Regions from separate parts of the Homo sapiens genome. Here region 1 is linked to region 2. Evidence: fine-mapped expression QTL. A gene starts in region 2. The other region holds a variant in brackets. All regions are shown on one strand. Distances are from middle to middle.

Region 1 (5,213 bases), 240 kb before region 2:
CTGTGGGCAAGGGCAGAATCTTCCCCTGGCCACAAAAGTTGGTCCCCGTCCCGTCCACCTACAGTTACTTACCCAGCCAGGGCTTCAGGGTCTTGTAGAAGACTATGTCCTTGTCTGTAATGGCATCTGACATGAATGAGGACCATCAGGGTCCATGGAGAGGAATAGAGGAGGGACTTTGGGTATGGAGGGTGGCTCCCAGCCAGAGGTTTGGACGTCTTTTCTCCAAGCCCAGCATAGCAGGAAGGAGGCCATGGGCAGAAGAAGAAAGGAGGGTGGGGGGCATAAAGGGGACCGGACTAGGCTGCAACAACACTATAGAGCAATGATACACCCTGACATGGTACAGCACACCCAGCATGTCTTGACATGGCTCCTACATGGTCCAACATGTTCTGCAACACCCAAGCATAAGTCAACACTCTACAAAACACATTTACAGAATAAGAGTTAAAGACAGAATTCTGATGATATTAGGTGAGACCTGGATCCAGTTGTGCCTGAAGGCCAACCTCCCTGGATGTTGCAGTCAATAGCTTCTCTTTAATGGCTTAGACTGCGTGGGGTTGAGTTTCTACCACTCACAATGGAAAGACACCTCAGCACCCATAGAGAGCCGTGGACCTGCCCAGAGTCACTCAGCATTTTGGGGCTTGAGCCATGGTCTCTGTGGCGTGATACCCCTTCTGCTGCTCTCCCTGGCCTGTCCAAAGATGGGAAGGGCAGAGGGCAAGGGTACGGCTCCAGGCTGGGGTGGTGTCTCCTATTGGAGATTCCTGGGGCCTGGAGCAAGAGGGCAATGAACATATGGTGGAAGTGCCACAGGATGGGATTAGAAGGAATCGACCCACAAGAGGTGAATGTCATGGAAATAGCAGCCTAGATCTTCCACCAACCACAACTCCTTCTCATCTTCTTGTCCTTGCTCTGGGCCTGCAGAAGGACAAGGCCAATGCCAAGCCTGGCCCGGAGCCTTGAATACTAACAATGCCCACTGCATCACCCTGCCCCTGCTTTAAAAAAAAAATTATCACTCATCGTTCCACACCCAGCTCCTGCTACGCCTCCTCCAGGAAGCCTTCCAGCCTGCCCCAGTAGAAACCTTGTTCTCCTATGCTCTGTCACAGCCTATCTCCTCCTGGCCCATTCTGAACCCCATGAAGTTGGGGATGTCTCTGTACTGCTCCATCTCTTCAAGTTTGGGGATTCCTCCAGGACAGGGCCTTGGATTAAGGCTTCTCGGGGCCCCAGTGGTTCCCAGAACAACACGGAGGTGGGGAAGATGGCAGCAGAGAGAAAAGACACTGAGGTTGGGGTTGGTGACTACAGGAAGGAAAGAGGAAGGTGGCTGAGAGAGAAGCAGGAAGGAAGGGGCTGAGTACTACAAGAGCTGCACAGAAGCTTTGGGGATGAGATCTAGAAGCCCTCCAATGTTCTCCTGTGCCCACCACCACAAGCTCTGCAGGAGTACCTGAGGTATTGATGACAGATCGGACGATGTCAGGGTGGCACAAGTTGATGATGGGAGTGATGGGGCCCAACCACCTCACAAAGCCCTGGGGGTAGGTGGCCACCAGCTGGGTCAGGACCCTCAAGCCCTCCTCTGTGGGAGTGACCTGCAAGCAAGGCAAGGGCCATCACCTCCTGTGTCCACTTGACTGGGTTAAGGGATGCCCAGATATCCAGTCAAACATTATTTCTGGGTATGTCTGTGAGAGTGTTTCAGGAGAGATTAGCATTTGAAGGAAAACTGAGGAAGGAGGATCTCCCCTTCCCAGTCTGTGTGGGCATCATCCAATCTGTTGAGGGTCCACGTAGAATGTAAAAGTGGAGGAAGGGTGAATTTGTTTTCTCCTCTGCAGCTGAGACATCCATCTTCTCCTGCCCTTGAACATTAGAACTCCAGGTTCCCAGGGCTTTGGACCCAGACGGAATTGCACCACCAGTGTCCCTGATTCTCCAGCTTGCAGAAGGCATAGAGTGGGACTTTTCAGCTTCCATAAACATGAGTCAATTCCTATAATAAATGCCCTCTTCTGTCTCTCCATAGATTAGATAGATCATAGACAGACAGACGGACTGATAGATAGATAGATAGATAGATAGATAGATAGATAGATAGATAGATAGATGTAGATATTGATATCCTATTAATTCTATTACTCTGGAGAAATAAATACATTTCCCAGGAGGAGCCACAGCAGGTCCCACTGCAGGCTTTAGAGGTGGCACAGCCTCTGCAATGAACAGCATGTCCAGATTCTGCGCACATAGGGGTAATCTCCACTCCCTCCTGCTCCCTTCTCTTGGGGGCAGTATCTAACTTCCAAGGCTACATCCCAGGGAACAGGGGGAAGACAAACTGTCTGTTCATGGAGAAGCCCACCTTGAATAAAGAGGATGGATTTTCTCATCCTGGGAGTGGCTCCAGCCCACGGAAAGTCACGTGGGGTGGGCTCCACAAGTGTGGTGTGTGGGCAGCAATGTGGCCTCAGGACATGTCCCCAGGGCTGGTCCCCACATCCTTTTATGTCCTGGCTGGGCCTCAGGGGCCCCAGGCCCTCCCATGGAGAAGGTCTGTACACGGTGGAACTTCCTTTCTCAGCAGCCCCCAGGGGAGAAGAGGTGGCTCTAACTGTCTGTCAGGAAGAACAGCGGCTCTCACCAGGGAGCACCTTTTGCACATCAAGCTCAGAGCTAGTCCGTCCTGTGTTCCCTCACCCTGCACCTGTGGACACACCCATCATTCCTGCCATTTGCCAAAGAACAGACTGATGCCAAATCGCCCAAAGGGGACAGCAGGTCTAAGTGAAAGGGCAGGGTCTGAAGGGTCAAAGGTAACTTTAAAGAGGAAGTCACTGGCCAATTTTTATCCAGGTTGGGCAACACAACTCATTGGGACAGCTTAGTGGGGATAAAGAAGATGCCCCTGCACGGGGGAGGGTGGAGATGGCACACATCTCTCTTCTGGCCCAGCTGTGTCATGATGTGAGGGTAGGGGGTGTATAGCTACTTCCTATGGGAAAACTCCAGCCCAGAGATGGATGGACACAAGCAAATGGGCCAGGCAGAAAGTGGGTTCTAGACAGTGAGCCCAAGAGGCCTCCAGTACAGCAGTGGATAATGTGGAAATA[A/C]TGGTGAATACCTGCTGCGTAACCCCCACTCTGCCACAGGAACCCATCAGAGGTTCACTAGTGTACTGAAAACAGTCAGGAAAAGAATTCAAAACAGTCTAGGGGTGACTTCCCCTAGACAAGGAGATGAGAAAGGCTTGGCATGGCAAAGCAGAGGAATGAGTGAGCAAGGAGAGGAATGAGTGAGCGAGGAGAGGAATGAGTGAGCGAGGAGAGGAATGAGTGAGCGAGGAGAGGAATGAGTGGGTGAGGAGAGGAATGAGTGAGTGAGGAGAGGAATGAGTGAGTGAGGAGAGGAATGAGTGAGTGGGAAGAGGAATGAGTGAGTGAGGAGAATGAGTGAGTGAGGAGAGGAATGAGTGAGTGAGGAGAGGAATGAGTGAGGAGAATGAGTGAATGAGGAGAGGAATGAGTGAGTGAGGAGAGGAATGAGTGAGTGCGCAGAGGAATGAGTGAGTGAGGAGAGGAATGAGTGAGTGAGGAGAATGAGTGAGTGAGGAGAGGAATGAGTGAGTGAGGAGAGGAATGAGTGGGAAGAGGAATGAGTGAGTGATCAGAGGAATGAGTGAGTTTCTCTGCCGTCCCAGACCCGAGCCCACCCCCTCAGCCTGAGCCCCATTTCCACCCTTCCACCCTGAGACACTAGATCCATCCTCCTGCCACTCACCAGGCCCAGGTGACCCAAGAACCAGTTCTGTTTCCGGGGCTGCGGGAAACACCGGAGGCGGCGGCCGTTGTGATAGAAGGCATAGGTCCAGGCCAGGATGCGGGCCAGGAGCCAGGAGGCCCCGACCACCAGCAGGAGCAGCCACGGGGATGCTGCCACCGGCCTGAGGCCCAGCCAAGACAGGCTCAGCAGCGACATCCTGCAGGGCAGACGGGATGGAGGGTGAGGTCCTGAGGCCTAGGAAAGGGGCTGGGGAGCTCCAGGACCAATGATGGGTAAACATGGTTAAGAGCATGGAGGGAGATTCAGGGAATCTCAGGGGAAGAGGCCAAGGGAGAGGGGAGAGGAGAAGTGACACAAAATTAGAGATCAAGGAAACTAGAGACCAGAAACCAGACAGCCTCATCTAGAACCACCAGCCAACTTGACCTCTGGTTACCTGCAAGCACCCATCACCAGGGCCAGCTCCCTGGAGCCATCCCAGTCTTGGGCAGTGCCCCTCCCTATCCAGCCCTGCCACCCCCAGCCTGGCACCTTCTGTCAGGAGAAGGTTGTCCCGCACAACCTCCTCTCCTCCTTTGCCAGGAGGTTTTTGCTCCTGGCCCCAGATCTAGGAAACACTTCAGGAGGCTGGGCGGGGCTGGACTAGCCAATCCTCACAGCCTGGATGCCTCCTTTGTGCCAGGGCAGCCAACCAAAACCCGGGGACTGGTGGGGACCATAACTGTAGAAGAACCAATTCAGGGTGACCGAGCATGGCCACTCAGTCCTTGGTACCTCTCATGTAAGGCAGAGGGTAAGTTGGAGGGCAGCCAATGGTGATCTGAGCCCCAAAATGTGCAGCCACCCTGCCTTTCCAAGACCAGGGGAAGGTAGGTAAAGGAATGAAGTGTTCAGATGCCAGGTGAGCTGGGTGAGGCCAAGCCTTCTCCCAAAACATCCCCCAAGTTCCCCTCCAAATGTGGGCCAGGAGAATGCTGTGCACCATTTCTCAGTGCAGATTTAGGAGATTCAGAGACAGAAGCCTGTTGCCCTCCACTGCCAGCCTGGCAGGAATTCAAGTCCTGCCTCCCAGCAGCCCAGGACCTAGGCTGAGACCTGACTGACAGGAGCAGGAACAAAGAATGCAGCACCACTGGGGATTACCCAGGGTCAGATTCTGGAGATAACGAGACCAGCTGGGAAAGCAACCTGGATGCTGGGCTCAGCATAGGAGGACAGAGGGGGCCTGTGAAGGGTAACGCTGAGGGAAGCTGAGAGCAGACGAGGTCGAGACAGTGGAAGGCAGAGCCAGGGGACCCTGAGTGGAGTCTCCTTCTGCTCTGTCCTTGCTTTGATGATGGGCAGTACTGCCCCTCCTGGGCTCAGGCTTTTTTTTTTTTTTTTCTTGAGACGGAGTCTTGCGCTGTCAC
Region 2 (5,213 bases):
AGACCAGTCTGGGCAACATAGGAAAACCCTGTATCTACTAAAAATACAAAAAAGTAGCTGGGTGTGGTGGTGCGTGCCCGTAGTCCTAGCTACTCAGGAGGCTGAGGCATGAGAATTGCCTAAACCTGGGAGGCGGAGGTTGCAGTGAACTGAGAGCCCCTGCACTCCAGCCTGGGCGACAGAGCGAGACTGTCTTAAAAAAAAAAAAAAAAAATTTAAATGTGAAAAATGAAAACCAAGATCAGAAAATAGTTAGAAAATTATAAACTGTGGGCGGGTGTTCCAGTGTGCTTACCAGAGCACTCACTCGCCGGTGGGCAGGGAAATGCCGTGGGAGGCAGCAGCACAGATTCTTCTGTCTTTTATCCACAGCAAAAATACCCAACAGTGACAACATCCAGTGCTGATGGGCAGGCAGGAGGACCAGGTCATTGTTTTAACACAGGTGGAAGAAGCATGACTTGCAAATGTTCTGCAGTTAATTGGGCACTATCACTTTGAAACCAAACCTGGTTAGAATGAAAAGCACCAGCATGGAAGTGTACAAGTTTATTCTAGTGTTGCTGGGTTATTGTGGAGAAGATCTGGAAGCAACATAAATGTGCCTCACTTGGGAGAATTTATGGTGTGGTTATCTGGGCATCTAGAACCAGGAGGATAAACTGTTGGCAAGTGAGAGTCACTGGGGGAACGGTCTATAGTAGTATCCTAATTGTGTATCTTTAGTTTATTGTGAGCATGTATGATGTCTGTTAATATTTTCCTCCAGTAGTAGAGAAAACGTGCTAAGGAAAAAAAAAAATGAAGATGGAGAGAGTAGAAACAGCAAGTGAGAAGGCTTTCTGAAACATGTAAATGGAGTGGGAAGGACTCAATGGGCTCTCCCACCCCACCAAAAATATCCTTCTTTTACCTTATGGTTTTTATAATGATCAAAGTGAGATTTGCCTGTACTCCCACCATGAGATGGCCCAGCATATTGATGGAAATCCTTCCAGACAAAATGGCTCTGGCATGCTCTGCAGACAGTACTATATTATACACCTTTCTTATGCCAGTGCAGAGATGAGCCCGATTTGAAGGGCTGCATGATGTTCTTTTGAATGTACGATTTATTTAACCTCTTCTGCACTGAGGAACGTTTAGGTGTTTTCCCATTTTTCACCACTACAATCAGTGTGCACGCATGTTTCCAGTTCTTAAATTTAGGATACGTTCTGGGAAGGGATTAATGAGACAGATTTTTACTTTTCATACATTGTGTCAAACTGCTTTCCAAAAAATACGGAAACAGTTGATCCTCCCACCAGCAGAGAAGACTCTCTTCACCCTTGCATGACTGGGAATAATTCTTCATTCTTGGAATTCTGTGGGTTAAAAAAGACGTTTCATTAAATATCTGTTCCTGTTTTTATATCTTCCCCGTTGGCCCCAAAGTGCTCCTTGCCTATTAGCCTAGTTGGCACCTTGTTACAGGTTGCACCCACCTTTGGCTCTTAGTTTCTTAATTGTTCACTGCTTATAGCTTTTTTGTAAGCAAATCAGATTTCTGTAATACAGCCGTAAAGTTAGAGATATATAGATCTGTATTTTTATTTACCTACAGTAAGTGTGGTGTGGAAGGAGAGGGAATTTGAACAAAGATCAGATAGGTTGTGGTTCCATGCTTGTGGAGTGGCCCTCCGTTGGTGGGGCTGGAAGTGCGTGGGTGCAGGGGCGGGGTGGGGTCCCTCTAAGCTGGCAGGGTCGGGGCAGCAACTTGTAGGGCACTCAGAGCAGCCTCTCCAGCTCCTTCTGCCCTGCCCGCAGCTCATGATGGAGCAGTCCAAGAAGTCCTCCCTCATGGTGGCCCGCAGTATTCTCAACAACAAGCTCATCAGCAAGAAGCTGGAGCGCTACCTGAAGGTGAGGCACTGGTCCGGGCCTGCCCTGTCCCCAGCTTAGTCCCCGCCTGTGCTCCCTCCCTTCAGTGTCCGCGCCCCTCCCCACAGGGCGAGAACCCTTTCACCGACAGCCCCGAGGAGGAGAAGGAGCAGGAGGAGGCTGAGGGCGGTGCCCTGGACGAGGGGGCGCAGGGCGAAGCGGCAGGGATCTCGGAGGGCGCAGAGGGCGTGCCGGCGCAGCCTCCCGTGCCCCCAGAGCCAGCCCCCGGGGCCGTGTCGCCGCCACCGCCGCCGCCCCCAGAGGAGGAGGAGGAGGGCGCCGTGCCCTTGCTGGGAGGGGCGCTGCAACGCCAGATCCGCGGCATCCCGGGCCTCGACGTGGAGGACGACGAGGAGGGCGGCGGGGGCGCCCCGTGACCCGAGCTCGGGGCGGGCGGAGCCCGCGTGGCCGAAGCTGGAAACCAAACCTAATAAAGTTTTCCCATCCCACCTCCGGGTTTCTCTGTTACTGTGCCGCGCGGGCGGGGCGGGGTGGGCAGAGGGGCGGGGTGCGCATGCGCGCGGGCCGGGCCGTCGGGCACCGCGGTGGGACCACAACTCCCATTAGGCCACGGAGCTGGATCGTAGCAGCCCGAAAGGCCAGCTGGGACGGCGAGGGCGGGCCCTCGTGAAGACCAGCCAATGGGGGCGCGCGGAAGTAGTGACGTGTGCGCCTGGTCTTCCAGTAGTCGATGGCGGAGGTGCGCTGAACGCATGCGTGCTGTGGTCGCCTAGTAAACGGGGCTGCTGGTGGGCCGCGTCGAAGACATGGACCAGGGCTACGGAGGTTTGTGTTGGCTGCTGGGTGCGGAGCGGGGAGGGAAGGCTCTGTGCGGGCGACGCAGCCGCTGCGCAGACTGCCGCCGGCCGGGCCTTCGTCCCGAGCGTGGTTGCCCCAGCTGGGCCCTCCGGAGAGGCGGCCAGGGCGCGCGCGCGCCGCTCATTGGGCTTTGGCGCCGTCGCTCCCGGGGCTCTGCGTGCGGATTGGCCGCCAGGCCCCGAGGAGGCGGGCGGGACTCGGGGTTGGGGCAGACGCCGCGGTGGGCTTCGTGGGGGCGTCTTAGACAGTGTGGGCCGTTTTTGCCCCTCACCTTCGGCGGAGTCCTTCCGGCCCCCAGCGACCCCGGGGTTTGCACTCCCGGCTTCCTCTTCCGAAGACGCCACAAAATGGCGGCGCTAGGGGGGCGGAGCTACAGCGTGGGGTTGTGAGGTCGGACCCGGGGAGCTGGGTCTGGGGCCGCGGGCGGACCGCGGGGGCCGCCTCTCTCCCGACCTGCCCTAGGCCCGCGGGGCCGTGTAGGGTCTCCGCTGGGCTCACGTGGCCCAGGGCGCCTGTCCCGGAAGCCGTCGGGCTGCGCGGGGTCGGGCCTTTAGTCCCCGGTGCAGCGCGGTGGGGCCGAGTGCTGCCGGCGCGAGAGTCAGCCTCGCCGGGCTCCAGCTCTGTACCCGGCGCGTGCTGGCTTGGGACAGGATGGTGAGGGGCAGATGCTGAGTGTTCGTATAAAGCTGGAAACCTGATGTGCCCTGGGGCTGGTGACATTGGCAGTTCTCCTTTAGGCAGTCTGTTGTGGTGGCCTGGAGGGGCCGAGGGGCTGTGCAGGAGGGAACGTGTCCTTTCCCCACTAGGATTTAGCGCTTGGCCTGCAGTAGGGCCGATCTTCTCGAGCTGCCTGCTCCCTGCTTCTGGAATCAGAGCCTTTTGGGAGCAAAGTTTGCCCACAGGGGATAGTTGGGACATGCTGGGTGGAGCTCGACTGGTTGTAGAGAAGCTAGTGGTCTGATCCTGGCTGCAGGAGCTCGAGAAGTTGTCGATCTTGAGAAGTGGCAGGGCAAAAGTATCCCAGCACCAGAAATTGCAGAGAGAGGTTTCGGTCCTGAGGCGGCAGCGTGCGCGGTGTGCTTTGGTGTCTTCCGGGTCCTAGCGAAGGCTCAGCCTGGCTCTCCTGGTCTTCCGCAGCCTGGGTAGATTTCACCATTCTTTCCCTTCTTTCCCATCAGATCTTTTCTGCAGGTATTGTATTCCTTCTTTTCATTCTTAGTTTGGAGAGGTTTTTTTTACCCCCTCTTCCTACCTGCCGAAAACCTTTCAGACACACTGGAGATAGTTAAGCTTCCCTGATTTCTTGTGTTTCCGGGAGCGTTTTAAGGTTAATAGTGCGTGCCACTTACACTAGAGCTTCACAGAGAAGCAGTCTCTCGAGGTTGGTTACTTGCTGTTGGAATCTGCAGTCTGCCTTTCTGCTGCACGGATGCGAATTTAGAAGGTTTTGCGGTATGACGGAGGGGAAGGCGTAGCATAGCAGAGGGCAAAACTCAGCAGTATGACTGGGTCAAGTCTCGTAACCCATGAGCCTAGCTCCCTTGTCTCTGAATGGCATTCCGGACAACAGGGTTTGCTGGGTGCTTGCGGTGTATCGGCACGCACTAGGCACTTAGCCGGGGGCGGGGGAGTTGTTCTGGTGAGGGAGACATGGATATGTTCCTGCCTCATCAAAGTGAAGTCATTTAACAGGCATGGTGGCCACCCGCGCGCAGCTCAGTGCTGGGCCCCAGGGACACAGAAATAAAGAGAACACAGTTCCCATTCTCCTTCCTGGAGGGACCAGACAGATGCCATAGTGGGCGGGGGGTGTGGAGGGGTGAAGAGTGCTGTCTGATGCCTTAGGGCCAGGCGAAGGCTCTGGGACTTAAAGGTCCAGGGGATCCGTGGAGGCCTTAAAAGTGGCAGGAAGGGCCTGGCGCGGTGACTCACGCCTGTAATCCCAGCACTTTGGGAGGCCGAGGCTGGCGGATCACGAGGTCAGGAGATCGAGACCATCCTGGCTAACATGGTGAAACCCCGTCTCTACTAAAAACACAAAAAATTAGGCGGGCGTGGTGGCAGGCGCCTGTAGTCCCAGCTACTCGGGAGGCTGAGGCAGGAGAATGGCGTGAACCCAGGAGGCGGAGCTTGCAGTGAGCCGAGATCGCGGCACTGCGCTCTAACCTGGGCAACAGAGCAAGACCCCGCCTCAAAAAAACAAAAAGTGGCAGGAAGTGCAGCTTAGAAAGATGCAATTTATGTCACTAAATTCCCATGCTTGTTTTCAGTTACGAAGTACTTGTGATGGCACTCTGAACTGGTTTCCTAGCTGTGTGGTGGGTGGGGGAACGTGTCCTCATGCTGAGTGGATTGTCTTGTGTTAGCCTCAGTTGTGGATGAAATCTTGGAGAGGTGAGGTCCTTGGCCAAGGTCCCTCTGCAGGGCGGAGCTGACTTCCAAGCCCACTTCCCACCCTTCTTTTTCTGCTT

Evidence for each region. PIP is the estimated chance that this variant, and not a neighbour inherited with it, causes the effect.
Region 1: its variant is the best candidate, but not a certain one, in a credible set for the expression of AKAP8 in uterus (GTEx, PIP 0.52).

What each region holds. Positions count from the first base shown.
Region 1 is chr19:15,614,403-15,619,615 of GRCh38, reverse strand. It overlaps CYP4F8 (cytochrome P450 family 4 subfamily F member 8), which reads right to left and starts at 4,398. Exons shown (of 13, transcript NM_007253.4): 1 at 4,336-4,398; 2 at 3,802-4,000; 3 at 1,472-1,616; 4 at 73-126. The coding sequence starts at 3,999. The variant A/C (reference allele first, on the strand shown) is at 3,135.
Region 2 is chr19:15,377,209-15,382,421 of GRCh38, reverse strand. AKAP8 (A-kinase anchoring protein 8) reads left to right here and starts at 2,635. Exons shown (of 14, transcript NM_005858.4): 1 at 2,635-2,709. The coding sequence starts at 2,691. AKAP8L (A-kinase anchoring protein 8 like) reads left to right here. Exons shown (of 14, transcript NM_014371.4): 13 at 1,810-1,905; 14 at 1,992-2,372. The coding sequence ends at 2,300. RefSeq lists silencers at 2,010-2,499, 2,840-3,389 and enhancers at 1,664-2,578, 2,350-2,644, 2,579-3,494.